Linked DNA regions of Homo sapiens. The protein of the gene in region 1 interacts with the protein of each later gene in a biochemical or structural test. Each region holds a gene or a part of one and is shown in the gene's direction. Other genes may lie near its edges.

Evidence for each region.
Region 2: the proteins of FYB1 (region 1) and FYN form a complex in vitro, tested with the Homo sapiens proteins (2 studies listed by BioGRID and IntAct).

What each region holds. Positions count from the first base shown.
Region 1 is NC_000005.10:39,132,258-39,139,930, reverse strand, and holds part of FYB1 (FYN-binding protein 1), read left to right. Parts: intron 1-678; coding exon 679-698; intron 699-1,239; coding exon 1,240-1,274; intron 1,275-1,813; coding exon of another isoform or gene 1,814-2,048; exon of another isoform or gene 2,049-2,210; coding exon 2,211-2,331; intron 2,332-4,916; coding exon 4,917-5,076; intron 5,077-5,581; coding exon 5,582-5,723; intron 5,724-7,673. UniProt on the Homo sapiens protein: Acts as an adapter protein of the FYN and LCP2 signaling cascades in T-cells. May play a role in linking T-cell signaling to remodeling of the actin cytoskeleton. Modulates the expression of IL2. Involved in platelet activation.
Region 2 is NC_000006.12:111,870,282-111,878,445, reverse strand, and holds the start of FYN (tyrosine-protein kinase Fyn), read left to right. Parts: upstream 1-4,993; 5' UTR 4,994-5,478; intron 5,479-8,164. UniProt on the Homo sapiens protein: Non-receptor tyrosine-protein kinase that plays a role in many biological processes including regulation of cell growth and survival, cell adhesion, integrin-mediated signaling, cytoskeletal remodeling, cell motility, immune response and axon guidance.

The sequences.
Region 1 (7,673 bases):
TCCATCCTTTTCTCATTAATTTATAGTGCTACCTTTATATTATATCAGCTCTATGTGTGTGTATGTGTATATTATGGGTGTGTTTATGTACATTTGTGTATGTCACTGAATTTTCTGCTCTATTCCATTGGTCTATTTGCCTGTTCTTATACCAACACCACACTGTTTTTATTATTAATATTATTATATTATTGCTCTTAATATTGGATTCTGTTTCAATATTCAGTAATTAGTTTTGATATTACACTGAACTCTTATTAAATTTTTTTAATCCAATTAACTTGATTTGTTTGATACATAAAAACAAATCCTTGGGAACTAATAAGTAAAAAGGTGTGAAACAGTGATTTTTTAATACCTTTTTCCATGCAAGCCCAGAAAACCAAATGGACATCCCTTTTCATAAAGGTAATAAACAGTGTATTAATTATTTTTCGCCCTTTGCATTATTTTATGAAAGCCAATGAAATGATTTTATAATTAAGTCACCAGCACAAATAAAAGCCATAGTAAAGATCTAAAGTACGTATTTGATTTTCTATTTCTGTATCTTTGATAAAGCATAAGTTCTGTTAGATTATGAACTATTTTGAATATTATTATATCATATCCAATAATCTTACATTAAAGTGCTTCCTTATTACAAATGTATTAAATTTTATTTTTTTAATCTTTTAGGTGCTGGAAATCTAGATGAGGTCAGATTTTTTTCTCTTCTCATATTATATTGACATAATCAGAATATTTCACAAGTATTATGATTCACTCCGTATTGGTACAAAACAAACAAATGAAAATCCTTATGAGCAATGATATTTTTCCATTTCTAATCTTATTTCATCTAAAATGCTTAAGATGTTACACACTAGTCATCACACTGACTCATTATAATGCTGTAGTGCTGAACAAACTTAAGTCTGACTACACGTCTGATTTATATAGCAAGATAGAAAAGGAAATTTTGTTTTTGCTTTCCCAGTCTATTTCTAAGGAGAAAAAAAATATTTTAAATAAGCCAAACTTACATACAATAGTTGTTTTACTGAGTATTTGAATTATTCTTTCAAAAATAATTCACAGTATGGCTCCTTTAAGTAGTTATTCCTCTGGACCATTTAATATGTGGTTCAAATTATAAAAATTTACATTGTTGCCTTCATTTTAAGTCTAAGCAATGTAATATGTGTGTCAACTTTTTAAATAATAAAAATTAATCATTATCAATGTTTTTCTTTACAGGAACAAGACAGTGAAGGAGAAACATATGAAGACATGTATGAATTACATTTTTTACCATGACAGTTTTCTTCAAAGATGAATATAATGTTTTGTATGAGGGAGAGTGGGTATATAACAACACTAGGAGGGAAGCTTGATTTGTTCAAATGACTGGCGTATAATAACTTTTATTTCAATTTAAAGGACCCAAAATTATTTAGTTCTCTAAGAATTCTACAAAGGACTCTGTTAAAAAGCTATTGTGTGAGAGGCCAGAGACATGCCTCTGAGATAAACCACAGTCAGGGAATCAGAGACAGAAATCTGATTTCTTACTCTTAGTGTATCCTTGGGCAGATGAGTTAATTTATGTTACGCCTTCTTCACCTGAACAGAGCTCCACCCACGGGGTGCTATGAAAAATAATTTATCATGACGCCCAGAGGTCAGAGTGTCAGCTGCTAAAGTGGAAAGATGTTAAACAAAGAAGTTTCTTGGAAACGAAATTTCTTGGAAAGTGGGTGAAAGTAGAAATGAATATATTATCTTACTTTATCATATGTTGATCTCAGATACCTTAATTTTCTCTACCCAGTGTTTATTCAACCAATTCTGACTCAAGTTTCAGAGCCAAGGTTTATATGTGTACCTGTGAATGCACAGGCACGTGTGCATATGAAAGAGAGAAAAAGAGATGGATTCTATTTATGCGAACATACAGCAAGAATGGGGCCTCTATAAACGGTGGCTTCCACTTGCTGGCACAAGTTGTCAGGGAAAGCAGAGCCTTTGGAAGGTATCCTCAGCAGTGTGCCTCCTACTGGTTTTAAAAATAATCTCACACATTCCGGATTTTGACAACCTTTCGCTTTTTACCTTCAACTGTACTTCAGATACCACCTTTTCTGTTGTGAGTAGAAACTTCTAGGTAGGGAGTTCCGACGCATCAACACCTGCAGATGTGAAAACAACCTAACAATTTTTACTCACAGAGAAGCATCCAAAGAAAGAGAGAAGAAAAGGGAAAAGGAAGAAAAGAAGAGGTTAGAGCTGGAGAAAAAGGAACAGAAAGAGAAAGAAAAGAAAGAACAAGAAATAAAGAAGAAATTTAAAGTAAGGGCTTGCTTGCTAATGAGTGAAAGAATAACATCTTTTTATACCTTTCACACAAAAGGGGTACCATTCTTGAAAACTTACATAGTTGAAGAATTACTTATTCATTATTCTCTAAAGAGTAATTATCTTCATAACAGTACTTTTTTGTCCAATACACCATTTTATCCCTGAACTAATATAATAAAATTTAAATAAATATATTGGTTCATAATTAGTGGACACCCAGGAAATTTTATGTTGATTGAGTGAATGAATATTTACCTTTTCAAACCCATCTTGTCTCTCCCCATAATGCATTTCATATTAGCCTACTTATACTATGAATTAGCATCACACACATAAATATCCCTGTGGTATGTATTATAGGGGGGCATTGGACACAAGTGCCTCCAGGGTGAACCAGACCTGTCTCAGAATAAGATTTCCATGATCTACTCTAATTGCTAGTATCTATACATGAGTTATATTGTTGCCTTTAAGTCTGTGTACATGCTGACTTCTGATAACTGCTGTTTCTCATCCCTCTTTGTCTGTCTGGATTCTGACCTCTGTATTCTCTGATCTCTGGTAATTGTGTGTTTTCTACCATTACTACCACCAGTAAACGCTACACTCAGGGGCTATTTTCTCCTGGCTACACCATCTTTGATGACATGGCTCATCTGGCATGGGTCTGGCATGTCAGACATATTTAGGGTGATTATCTGAATTACAAAATTATTCTTTCAAAAAGAATTCACTGTATGGTTTCTTTAAGTATTTTTATTCCTCTGGAGCATTTAATATGTGGTTCAAATTTCTTTAAAAATGATTTATATATAACTTCCCGGTATATTTATTGCATTAAAGCAAAGGTTCAATGCATGGTGCAAGGAAAATGTATAGCATCAAGTCAGCCAGACAAACTGATTCAAATTCCAGTTGCACATACAAGTTATGTGATCTTGGGCTTCTCACTTAACTTCTCTGAGCCGCTGATTCTTAATCTTTTAAGTAAGGATAAATGATACTACTCCAGAAAGTTTGTTATGGAACTAAAATAATGCAGAGCATACACTGTATCATAAGATTCTCATTTGATTTTGAAAAAGCTTGCTATATGTAAGTAAAATTATGATTACCGTATTAATATTAGAACATTTTACTTATACAGAATGCATGACTACCAATCTTTATATTTTTCAAGTGAAAAATTAATTTCAATTAATTTATGAAAATCTATATCGTAGGCCAGGCGTGGTGGCTCAGGCCTGTAATCCCAGCACTTTGGGAGGCCGAGGTGGGTGGATCATGAGTTCAGGAGATTGAGACCATACTGGCTAACACAGTGAAACTCAGTATCTACTAAAAATACAAAAAACTGGCCAGGCGTGGTGGCGGGCACCTGTAGTCCCAGCTACTTGGGAGGCTGAGGCAGGAGAATGGCATGAACCTGGGAGGCAGAGCTTGCAGTGAGCTGAGATCGGGCCTCGGCACTCTAGCCTGGGCAACAGAGCGAGACTCCATCTCAAAAAAAAATAACAAAAATCTATATAGTATACTTTCCATGAAGAAATTGTAGATTTAAAGGAATTATGTGGGGTTTTTCCATGTTTCTTCTGGAGAATTCAGCTTTACATTATCTCATTCATTCAAATAATATTTTTAGTAAGAAAAGATAGGATATGGAAATCATACCATTAAATATGAACTCAAAAGTCTGTCAAAACTAGGACTTCACCAGCCATATTCCTTTCACAAGATGATAATAGATAATAGGTAAAAAAAATTAAATAAATATGAGAACTGAGCCTCATCAGCATCATGGCATATCATAACTTAACTTACATTATTTTCTTTATTTCTTAGTGGTACATGATAATGATAAATGTTTATAATTAATGCCATCATAAATTCAATAAATTAAAGGTAGAGCTTCTTCAAAAGTCGTCATGCATATTTGCATATCAAAAGATTCAAGAAATTCTGTTGAAAAGACACCAATTTAGGATTAGAAAATTAAGAGTTTAGGATTCATAGTCTAACCAACATCATTATCCTTCTATCAATAAGCCACCATACTGTTCAGAATATTAATTTGAAAAACCTCGTGTAACATTTGCTTGCTATTATTTGATTTACAAGCTTATTTCTGAAATGTTATCTTGTTTATAGCAGGTAATGTCTGCTCCAATTTTACAAACAATGCAAAGGGGAAAAAACTCCATCTTCTGAACAGAATCCTGGCATATTCCATAAAGATACATAGCACACAGCATGGATTGTTGTACATAAACGCTGTTCAGTTATTGGGGGCTGCCTTTGCAGGCCTCTTGCAGAATTCCTAGTCAACAGATCCCTGCCTCACTCTCCTGACCCCATGCACATGTTCACCTGTCTTAGCTGGTCCTGCTTGGCCCCTGTGATTTTTCCCTAACCCCTCCTATAAGAAAAACATTCACCCTCAATTTCTGGTTAAACCCTGTAAATGTTGGTTATAGGTAGCTTAGCAAGTTGTAGACTTATATCTTTCAAAATTGCATTCCTTAAAGATTTTCTAAATTATAAGGAAATCTTTTGTGACTATTTTTTTCTCTTTGCAGCTAACAGGCCCTATTCAAGTCATCCATCTTGCAAAAGCTTGTTGTGATGTCAAAGGAGGAAAGAATGAACTGAGCTTCAAGCAAGGAGAGCAAATTGAAATCATCCGCATCACAGACAACCCAGAAGGAAAATGGTTGGGCAGAACAGCAAGGGGTTCATGTGAGTGCAAATTTCTCTATGGCTTCGAAGTATTTTCTTTGCGAGGCAATATTCAATGTACATATTCCTCCAGAACTCGTCATAGGCATCGAGTTAGGAGTACTTTACAGAGTGGACAAAGGGAGGAAAATGTTAAATGGCAGGTATAGTTCCGTCTTCACCTCATCTGTTATCTATATTGTGGGAAACAACGTACAGTTTTATATTATTCCAGGAGGAACGAACAGCATTAGGTTTTTCATTGATGTTAAAAAGAAAAAATGCTTCATGTGAATCACTTTAGAATATTTAAAATAGAAGGTAGGCTTACATTAAACTACAACAGGATTAGACTTTGACAGAGTACAGTAAAATTTGGGTCTACTTGGGAGGTCTACAAATCAGAACTACAAGAAAATAAATCAGGGGAAAGTTTAAAGAGCAAATGTGCAATTGATATTTTATTCACAACTTTAAAATATTTAAACTACAGTTGCCTGAACATAAATATTTCCCTTTTTGGTAGATGGCTATATTAAAACAACTGCTGTAGAGATTGACTATGATTCTTTGAAACTGAAAAAAGACTCTCTTGGTGCCCCTTCAAGACCTATTGAAGATGACCAAGAAGTATATGATGATGTTGCAGAGCAGGATGATATTAGCAGGTATGTGCAAGTACGTATTGTAGAACAGATCAAACTGTCTCCTTGTCAGAAATTTTGTATATTAAGATCCTAGAATTTTACCCTCCATAACTCCTACTGCTCTCTATCACTAAACTAAATGACCACTTACAATAACCCCAACATGGGTGAAAGGTCGTTTGAAACTCCATAGTCTTTCTTTTGATTATATGCATCAAATACTACTTGAAATATAGTGGGCCATTTGCCAGATCTTGTAAAATGTGTTTTCATTCTAAAACACTTTTATAATGTTCATTATGACTTGATCTTAGGGATATGCCTAATGAAATATGATTTGGTAAAATATGAAGCATAAAATATAAAATTTAGCCCATTTTTTCTCATAAATCTCTGATTCTAAATATATTTGTTGTTATTTTTTGAAAATACGACAAAAAATGATTTTTATGGCAACCCCAGTTTGCTCCTTAAAAGTAAAAACTCCGTTTTTTTATGATCCCTAGGTATCAATTAAGGGTCCAACTTTCCACGGCCCATTCCACTAGATTAAAATGACCTTCACTTCAAGAATTATGGGAACACCTTCCTGGTATAGAGGAACAGAATAGAACATCCTTTCTGGAGGACCAATGAGAGGAGATTGGCCATCCCTCCCTTGTACCTCTCCTTCTCTTCTTTCCTTTCTTAGTCTTCTGCTTCTTTCCTCTCTCCATCTCTCCTCTTCTTCTCTTTGTTCCAGCTCTGATTTTTTGTCATTCTTTTGTCTCTTTTGTACTTTTCCATTCCCTTTCTCCTTTCATTCCTTCTTTCCTCCAACACCTCCGTTTTCAGTTTAAAGCCATAATCCCCTCAAGTTGAAAGGAGGAAAATCTCTGGTCCAGTTCAGAACTTTAGTTTTTTGATGACTACTTTATAAAACTAGGAAACCTCCATTGTGATCCCAAAAAACATCATCTGTGCTAGCTCTTCACCTGGGTAAAACTGTGTCTGCATTCTTCATAACTCAAATTTCAAAGGAAACAATCTTCATTGTCAGCCATTTCTAAAACACCAAATTAGTAATACACTTATAAAGCACATGAAGAATTAAATTTTCCTCTTATGATCTTTTATATCATGGTATCAGTTAAGCTTGTTATGCTGCTTTCTAGCAGTTTTGTCTTTCTAAAATGAATTACAGCCGGCTATGCCTTCTTACCATGTTCTAAACATAAATTATGCAACATATACCAAAACATACAATGCATGCACTAGAGTTTGGAGATCATTAACTGACTTTAGTCAAACATCGACCTAGTGTGAGTCAGTAAATGCCAGTTTTGAGGCCAGATGAAGTTCCAAATCGTCACATTCTGTAACTTACAGAATTTTCATGACTATGTCAAGCATATTACCAATGTATATACTTTGTGTGTGCCTTTTGTTTTTTAAAAAGCACACTCCCTTAATTTTTGGTGAAAGAATTCCAGTTACATTATTTGCGCATATTTACATGGATGTGCATACTCAAGAAAAAAATAACAAATCCAGAAAAAACAATGAGGTTCTTAGAATGAAACTTTGTTTAACCATATTGGGTGAATATTTCCCAAAACTAGCATTATCACCTTTTTCCATTTTATTGAATCCATACATACCACGACTCTAAAAACCTGCTCTACTTTAGTAAACATATAACAAAAAAAGAATCTTATATTTAGTAAAAGCAGGAAGTTGGAAGAGTTGTAGGGTTTTAATGCTCAGTATCTTAAACAAGTATAGCCCCACAATATTTACTAGCATCTAGCCCTCTCTTATGCACCCTTACTAAGAAAATTAAAGAAGAAGACATTTCTATACATGTTTTATTTTTGAAACTGCAGCTGCTGCGGGCAGAGATCTCATAACAGAACATGCTTTGTTCTTAGAAAAAGGGAAGATGCTGAGTGTAGCCGGCAGCTTGCCCTGGCAAGAATAAGAAGAGAAGGC
Region 2 (8,164 bases), on another chromosome or scaffold:
ATATAGGCCTCTCTTCCTCCCCAGCATGCCTGGCTTGCCCAGTACTGACCCTGACATGTTGAGAGCATCCAAAAGAGGTTCAGTGCACCTGGGTTCTAAAACCATGTTCATAATAACTCCTATCTAGTCAGTCCACCCTCCATCTTTTTAAGAGAAAAGGGAACTGGAAAGCCAAATGCCAAGAGGGCTCTGCTGTGGCCTGTCAGGAGGACCAGCTGTCCAGTATGGACACAATTTAACAAGAGAGACAATGGTAGAAAAGTAGGGCCAGAATCTCAACTTCAGAAGAGCCACAGGTATCTTCCTTCCAGAGGCAGGTTTAACATCACCTACGCTCCTTTCTGAGTTCAGGCTGGGGTGTTGTATGGAATGTCCTTCCCACATGAGATTTTTCCAGGACCATCTCCTGCTGGCTCATGGCAAGCTGTGGACCCAAAATGCCCTAAATCCATTGGCTGTGTTCTAAAGATTGTGTATATAAAAATATGTAACTCTTTATGTATGGACTTGATATGAGGCATCAGAAGAAAGAGGTAAACAGTGAACCAGGTATGCCAAGTACAGACAGGTTAGCCCTGGGGCCACTTTAGCAGTGGTGTCCCACTCTAAGAGTGAAGGGGTTTTTTTGCTTGTTTTTTTCATTTTGTTTTGTTTTGAGACAGGGTCTCACTCTGTTACAGCAGTGCAATTAGAGCTCACTGCAGCTTTGACCTCCCAGGCTCAAGCAATCTTCCCATCTCAGCCTCCCAAGTAGATGAGACGGCAGGTGTACACCACCACACCTGGCATTTATTTTTTTTGTAGAGATGGGGTCTTGCTGTGCTGTCCAGGTTGGTCTCAAACTCCTGGGCTCAAGCAGTCCTCTGGCCTCAGCCTCCCAAAGCACGGGGATTACAGGCACGAGCTATCATGCCTAGCCTCAAAGTGAAGTTTTATAAGAATCATTCCTGCAAGTCCCAGAAGACCCACCAGAAACAAGAAGGGTGTCTGTGGGTGGATGGAAGCAGAAGGCCTCCCTCTGGTCCTGGTCTTGATTCCTGAACACTACCCTGGGGCAATATGCCTTCAAAAGGGAGGAAAAACAGCAGACAGGAGGCAGAGGAAGAAAAACGAGAATTAAAGTAGCAAAAAAAGGTACAAGTTTAAAATAAGTTTTTATTGTTTTTTCTAATAACATAATAAATGCCCAATGTAAAAAGTTGAGGAAATTAAGAAAAAGATAAAAAATAAAATAACAATGACCTAAAATATGATTACTTGGAGGAAATGATCATTAAAATTTTTGTGTATGTATTGCTTTCTATGAAAATTTACACATATAAATAAGTTTAAAAATAATGGAAATATATGTGTATTAATACATATATATAAACATACATATGTACACATACAAACACAATACTAATTTATTAGCTCTTCTTAATTTTAATTTGTTGTGAACATCTTTCCACACAAATAAATAAATAAATGGCAATGTTATAATTTTATGGCTATATAGTATTCTATTATAGATATAACATAATTTACACACCAAATCCCTTATCAATGAACTTTTCTCAGTGTTTCACTATTATAAACAATGTTCCAATTATTCCCATGATATGTGCGCTTGTGTTTGTGTATTTGCAAATTTGTTCCATTCTTTCCCAGAAGTAAAATTGCTAAGTCAAATGTATACATTTTTTTAAAAGGCTTTTCACAAATGCTATTAAACTGCCTTCCAGCAATGTTGTACCAATTAAAAATTCCACTAGTAGGGTATGGATATCCATTTTCCTGTTGAACCTCCTATCACATTTACTGGCCATTTTGGGTTTTGTTTCTGTTGCACATATTTTTCAGTTCGAACGTTCATCTTTATTTTCTTGTTGATTTGTAAAAACTCTACATTGAGGGTTTTTACCCTTGCCATATGTGTTGTTGTTGAGTTGACATTTAAGAGAAGATTAAAACTAAAATAAAATAATAAGACAAGAAAATGTTTTAGCTAATAAAAATAAGAAAAAAAAGTTACTTTAAAAGCAAGATATAAGATTCAGATGAGACAAGTTCAAGAAAGCCAGAATAGAAAGAGGAAACTTTAAGGTAAAACAAGTAGAAAAATACAAAATATATAAACAATATCAATAAAATCAAAGAGAAGTTCTAGAACAATGACTACATTCTAATTTGTATAATAGAAGCTACTCATAAGAAAACAAAACTGGTGGTTGTGGAAGACAATATTACTTACCTTGGGTAGGCCAGGGACAGCGTCTCAGATCTTTAATCAAGTTCTTGGTAGAGATTGGCAGAAAAGATCAAAACGGGAATAGTATACAAATCTTTTGCAGTGCTCTATTCACTTGTTCAGACCATTAGCAAATCCTCCTGAGGAGTCCAAATCCATTTAAAGCTACATTTAAGACGGGCAACAGATAAAAAAGTAGGTAAGCAAAGAATTACAAAAAACAGGATGAAGTCTTGATGGGAGCAGGTTAATCTGTCATTTTAATCACATTGTCTCTTTGTCCACTAATTAGATCAAGAAGCTATTACAGTTGCAGACACTAAGAAGTGACTTCTCGTGAAGAAACAGAGAGAGAGGAGGAGAGAGGGAGAGAGAGAGAGAGAGAGAGAGAGAGGACTTATCCCACCTACTCCAGATTTCCAGATTTAGCGTAAGATAGATTGAACTAAACATGAGATTTCAAGGAGATATATAGCCTAAGAGTGTTTTTTTCTTGAGAGCATATGACACTTAGTCTGTCCGGAATAGTTTGAGAACAGTTTTACTATTTTTCCCATTTTACGTATGAGGACACTAAGGTTCAAAAAGGATAAGCGACTTGCTTCATCAAAGCGCTCCCAACAGTGAACTGTGGAGCTGGAATCAGAAACAACTCCAGACCAGTGCTGCCCGATAGAGATATAACTTGAGCCACATAGGTTATTTAAAATTTTCTAGTAGACGCATTTAAAAAATAAAAGAAACAATTTAATTAACTCTAATAATGTTTTATTTAGCACAGTACATTTAGACTATCATTTTAACATGTAATCAATATTAAAATGGGATACTTTACATTCCATTTTTCATGCTTGATCTGAAATATCTAATACATCTTTTACATTTACAGCACATCCTAATTTGCAGTAGCCAAATTTCCAATACTGAAGTACATTTCAAGTACTTAACAGTCATGTGGCTAGTGGCTACCTCCTCGGACAGCCCAATTCTAGAACTATGGTCCTCAAGGTGCTGTCTCCAGATTGGCTGTATCAACATCACCTGGGAACTTGCTAAATGTGCAAATTCTTGGGCACCATCCCAAACCCCCTAAATCAGAACCTCAGGTGGTTAAACACAGCAATTCATGTTTAAGCAAGCCCCTTCAGTTATTTCTGATACATGTCAAAGTTTGAGAACCATTGCTCTACCCAACTGCCTCTGCATCCCAATCCAAATAAACCCAGAGCAGCCATTGCGGACTAGCCCTGAGGACGAAGAGCCTCTGCTCTTGAGATAAGCAATTCTTGGCTAAATGAAGCTGGCTTTCTCTTGTATGGAAATATCCTAGTCCTAGCTATGGTTCCATTTCTTGGGATTATGGAATTTCCAGACACAATTTAAACATGGTTTAATTTGTCATTTTGTTTAAGGAAAAGGAAAAAAATCCAGTAACCTCTGTATACTGTCACCTTGAGTTAGTTACTTAACTTTTCTTTTCCTCAGTTTCCTCCTCCATAGGATGCAGATCATTTAATAAATGTTAGCAACTTTTCTTAAAAAGTAGTGTGTACAAAAAGAAAAAAGTCAGCAAAAGGGACAGATTTTTTTAAACTACAGTAAAAACAAGTAGTGGGCCGGAAAGGCAATATTATAGATTTTGAGCACAGAAGCAGAAGCTGATTCACTTATAATTTCTTAGAACATTAGATTTGCTGAGGGGGAAGGTAGGGTTCTTGCCAAAATCATTAAGGAGAGCGATTCTGAGTATGCCTTAAAGCAGAACTTTCAGTAAACAGGAATTACCTATAAAGAAAATCAGGAAGCCAAAGTGTTTCTTTTTATGAAGTTACATCCTGCCATAGAAAAGCTGGATAGGAAATAAAGACCGATGCACTCCCAACTGTATACTAAACCGGCAATTATTTCATCAAGGGAAATATGAGCAAAAGCTCAGATTCAGTGAAGGGGAAAAAAACATGAGAAGTTTGAATGTTATGAGAAACCAAAGACAACCAATGACTACAATTAAACGAGGTTTTTTGGGGGTGGGGCGGGGAATGTACGAACAAATCTCTGTCATTTCAGGTTCCTTAGTCGCCGCTTGGCCCCTCCCCCTATTTCAGTAATACTTCCTCCAGACTTTTGCTAGAAAAAAAATATAAATGAGTGTCCGCAGAAATAGGGGACTGATAAAATGATCCTAATCTCCTTCTCCTCCTCATTGTTATTTGTTGTGCGTTTCCACGTTTCAGGACAGGATTCTACTTTGCTCCGTACTCTTTTCAGTTTGATCAAAGAAAACGCTGCTATCACCGCCCAATTTTCCATTTCATCCTCTCACCCTCAAATGAAAAGACACCAGAAAGGCAAGATAGCCCTGTCTCGAGGCAGTTTCCCATGGTTTTGGGGGAATGGCAGGTGCCAATCTGCAGCAGCAGCTGCAACCTTCCGCAAAGCGGAAACTGCAGTTCACACTCTCCGCTCTTTCTCCCGCCCTACTCCGCCACCTCACAACTCCACACAATCCTTAAAAACACACAGACCTCCTCCTCCAACCTCGCATTTTCTTGCACACCCTGCACCGCACGCACCCTGGGATGCCCGCTGCCACAGTAACGCTCAACCCACTCGGCGGCCCCACCTACTGCCGTCCCGCCCACGCCCCAGGCGCCAATGGTTGCGGCTCGCAGCTCCCAAGGGGCTCTTTGATAGGGCAGCCGGGCCTGTCACTCTCGAGGCGCGCCCCGCCCCCTCCTCGCTCCCCTCCGGAGCTGGAGGGGCAGAGCATCAGCAAGAGTAGCAGCGAGCAGCCGCGCTGGTGGCGGCGGCGCGTCGTTGCAGTTGCGCCATCTGTCAGGAGCGGAGCCGGCGAGGAGGGGGCTGCCGCGGGCGAGGAGGAGGGGTCGCCGCGAGCCGAAGGCCTTCGAGACCCGCCCGCCGCCCGGCGGCGAGAGTAGAGGCGAGGTTGTTGTGCGAGCGGCGCGTCCTCTCCCGCCCGGGCGCGCCGCGCTTCTCCCAGCGCACCGAGGACCGCCCGGGCGCACACAAAGCCGCCGCCCGCGCCGCACCGCCCGGCGGCCGCCGCCCGCGCCAGGGAGGGATTCGGCCGCCGGGCCGGGGACACCCCGGCGCCGCCCCCTCGGTGCTCTCGGAAGGCCCACCGGCTCCCGGGCCCGCCGGGGACCCCCCGGAGCCGCCTCGGCCGCGCCGGAGGAGGGCGGGGAGAGGACCATGTGAGTGGGCTCCGGAGCCTCAGCGCCGCGCAGGTAAGCAGGCGGCGGGGATGCGTCGCGGGAGGCCTCGGGGATGCTGCGGAGAAGCCCGGCCGCCGGCGCCCCCGCGCACGCCGCCCCCGCCGCAGGGCCCGGTGCTGCGGTCCCTTGGCCGCCAGGGCGCTCCGCGGGGCTGCCGGGGAGTCGGTGCTTGGGGTCTTCCCGCGGTTGCACCGGAGGACACCCCTGCGGGGTGCGGCCCCGAGGCAGCGCGGGGATGGGGACCCCATTTCCTCGCCCGCAAGCGGGCGCCGGGTGAAAATGGGAATTGGCTTGGGGGCGAGGCTGGCCCAGACTCCGCCCCCGCCCTCCTTTTGGGGCCCCCCGCGGGGACTGGGGCTGTGTGTGTTGTTTTAATGTCAGGGATGATGTAATCACTTAATAATTGATGCCCCGTGCTGCTTCCCTCCCCACCCAACCCCTGCCCCACTCCTCCACCTCTCGGCCTCCTCCCTCGGCGGCGGTCGCCTTCTCCAACCCATCCTCCTGCCTATTTCTGGCACCTCCCTTGCACTTCCCCCATCCTCCCCTTCACTCTTCCTGTGCCACCACCCACCCACCCTTCCCCTTTCCCCTGTGCTGGAGCCTTCCCTCCTCTTCCTCTGTCCCCCACCCCTCTGCTCCCTCCAGCTCTTTTCTCCTTCCTTTCCGGCTCCCTCGCTGGATTTCCTCTCTACTTCCCTAGATCCATGGCTGTTTTTGTTTGGGCTCCTCCCCTCTGTTATCTCTGCGGCCACAGGCGGAGGGGACTGGGCCAGAAGGAGGCCACCGAGCTTGGGCCCAGCAGAGATGTGCTGGGACTCACTGGGAAGAGGGATAATAAAATCACCCTTCTTGCCCCTCCTTCCCCCAATAAATCACACAGACTCGCCGGGTGTGTGAGTGTGAGTGTGACACAAAGAGCCCTTTCAGTGCATAGAGAGGAGACACACAAAGTACCCTAGGATAGGCACGATGCTTCTTGTCTCTCTTCCCTGGGGCTTCCCTTTCTTTCCCATGAAGCAGTTGATCTCTCTGAGTCTTTCCTGCCACATTTACCAAAAAATAAAAGAACCCCCGGATGCCGGGTGGCAGGTGTCGGCATTTTGCTGTGTTCAGAGACCGGTAGTGTTGACTGGCAGCTGCAGTGTTTCTTAGATTTAAGGGAACAGTTATCCCAGCAGTCTTAAGAGTTGCTTTACTTTTAAGGTAGCCTCCCCATCCCCTCGTTCTTTCCCCTGTCCTTTTGGGAACAAGTACTAAGAGCTGGGGTAGAGTAGATTGGTGTGGGGGTCACAAGAATTTTGTTTCTGAATCAGAATTAAATTGTTATTTGATAAGAGGGAGGCAGCCTGAATGGCTTCTTCTCTCAAGTCTAAGAGGGCACTGTACTGAAGTCTTTTGAAATGAAATCCTGTCTGCCCAGTGATGTTGTTTTACCCTTTTATTGAAGTAAATACCTGGGGACGTGGATAAAACGGTCTAGAGTTAGCATTTGGAAGACCACTGCAGACTGCCTCTTGCCTGCTTCAAGGTAGTCTTGGGACGCCTACTTCCTTTCTCACCACCCAAGCAACTGCAATACTTTCCACCCTATGTACTGTCTTCTTCCCCAGTCCCTGCTCCATGGGTACCCTGTATTCAGATGAAGGGACTCACAGACTTTTGGAGGAAGTGGTTTAACTATCTGAGGCTTTGAGGCCACTTGGCTATGAACTGGGGCTGTAGAGAATCTTGACTGAAGTCTAAACCATTTGATGTTCCCTTTAAGGAAGAAATGTTAATGTAAATCTGGGGGCTTAATGTTCCGTTTTGTAAGCCAGTGACTATTACATGCTTAATCGATATTGTCAAAACTTAAGTTGAACCTGTTCTTTCCTAAAAGTATGGCTCCTCGACTATTTTTATAAGTAACAGAACTGTAGGTTTAGTCTTCAGTAATTTTATTAGAAAAGAGTTATGATTCATTAAATATTTACTTACACACTTTTTAAGAACATTCATCGTGGAACTTTTTACGATAAAAAAAGCAATAGGGTTAATGAGTGTACTGTAAAAACAAAGGGTCGTTTGTTTGATGCCAGACCCAGGAAGGAAAGCCAGAGCACATAAACTCACACTCTGTTGACCAAGTTTAAGAGACTTAATGATAAGGTTGAATGTGAGCAAATGCACACTCTGCTTTCTCCTGGGTCTGGAATCTCCAACCCCATCTGACTTGCTCGAAGTCCTTTTTAACCTTTGGGGCCCAGCTCAAATGTCATCTCCTCTGTGAAGCCGTTTCCATCTTCTCCTTTCCAAACAAATCATCATGTTTTGGTTTCAAACTTTGGCAGCAGGCATTATGTTTCGCATGAGTCTATTTCCACCATTAATTGGTCAGCACATTGATAAAAGGAACCTTATCTTACTTATCTTGTTTCCTACCAAGTTTTATCTTAGCGGGTATTCTGTTTCATTTAACATTAAACAAATGTGAGTTAGGTCTTTGGTATGTGCTCAACACCTGTATCAATTAGGCTAATGTTAGCAGGTGTAACAAATAGGCCTGCAAATATATAATGGCTCAAAAGCAATAGACGTTTATTCTTGCTCATTTAATAGTCAAAAATTCATGTTTCTGGTCGGTAGGTGGCTTTCCTCCATGCAGTGACTCTGGGTCCCACACCCCTATCTTGTAGCTCCACCATCCCATAGCTTA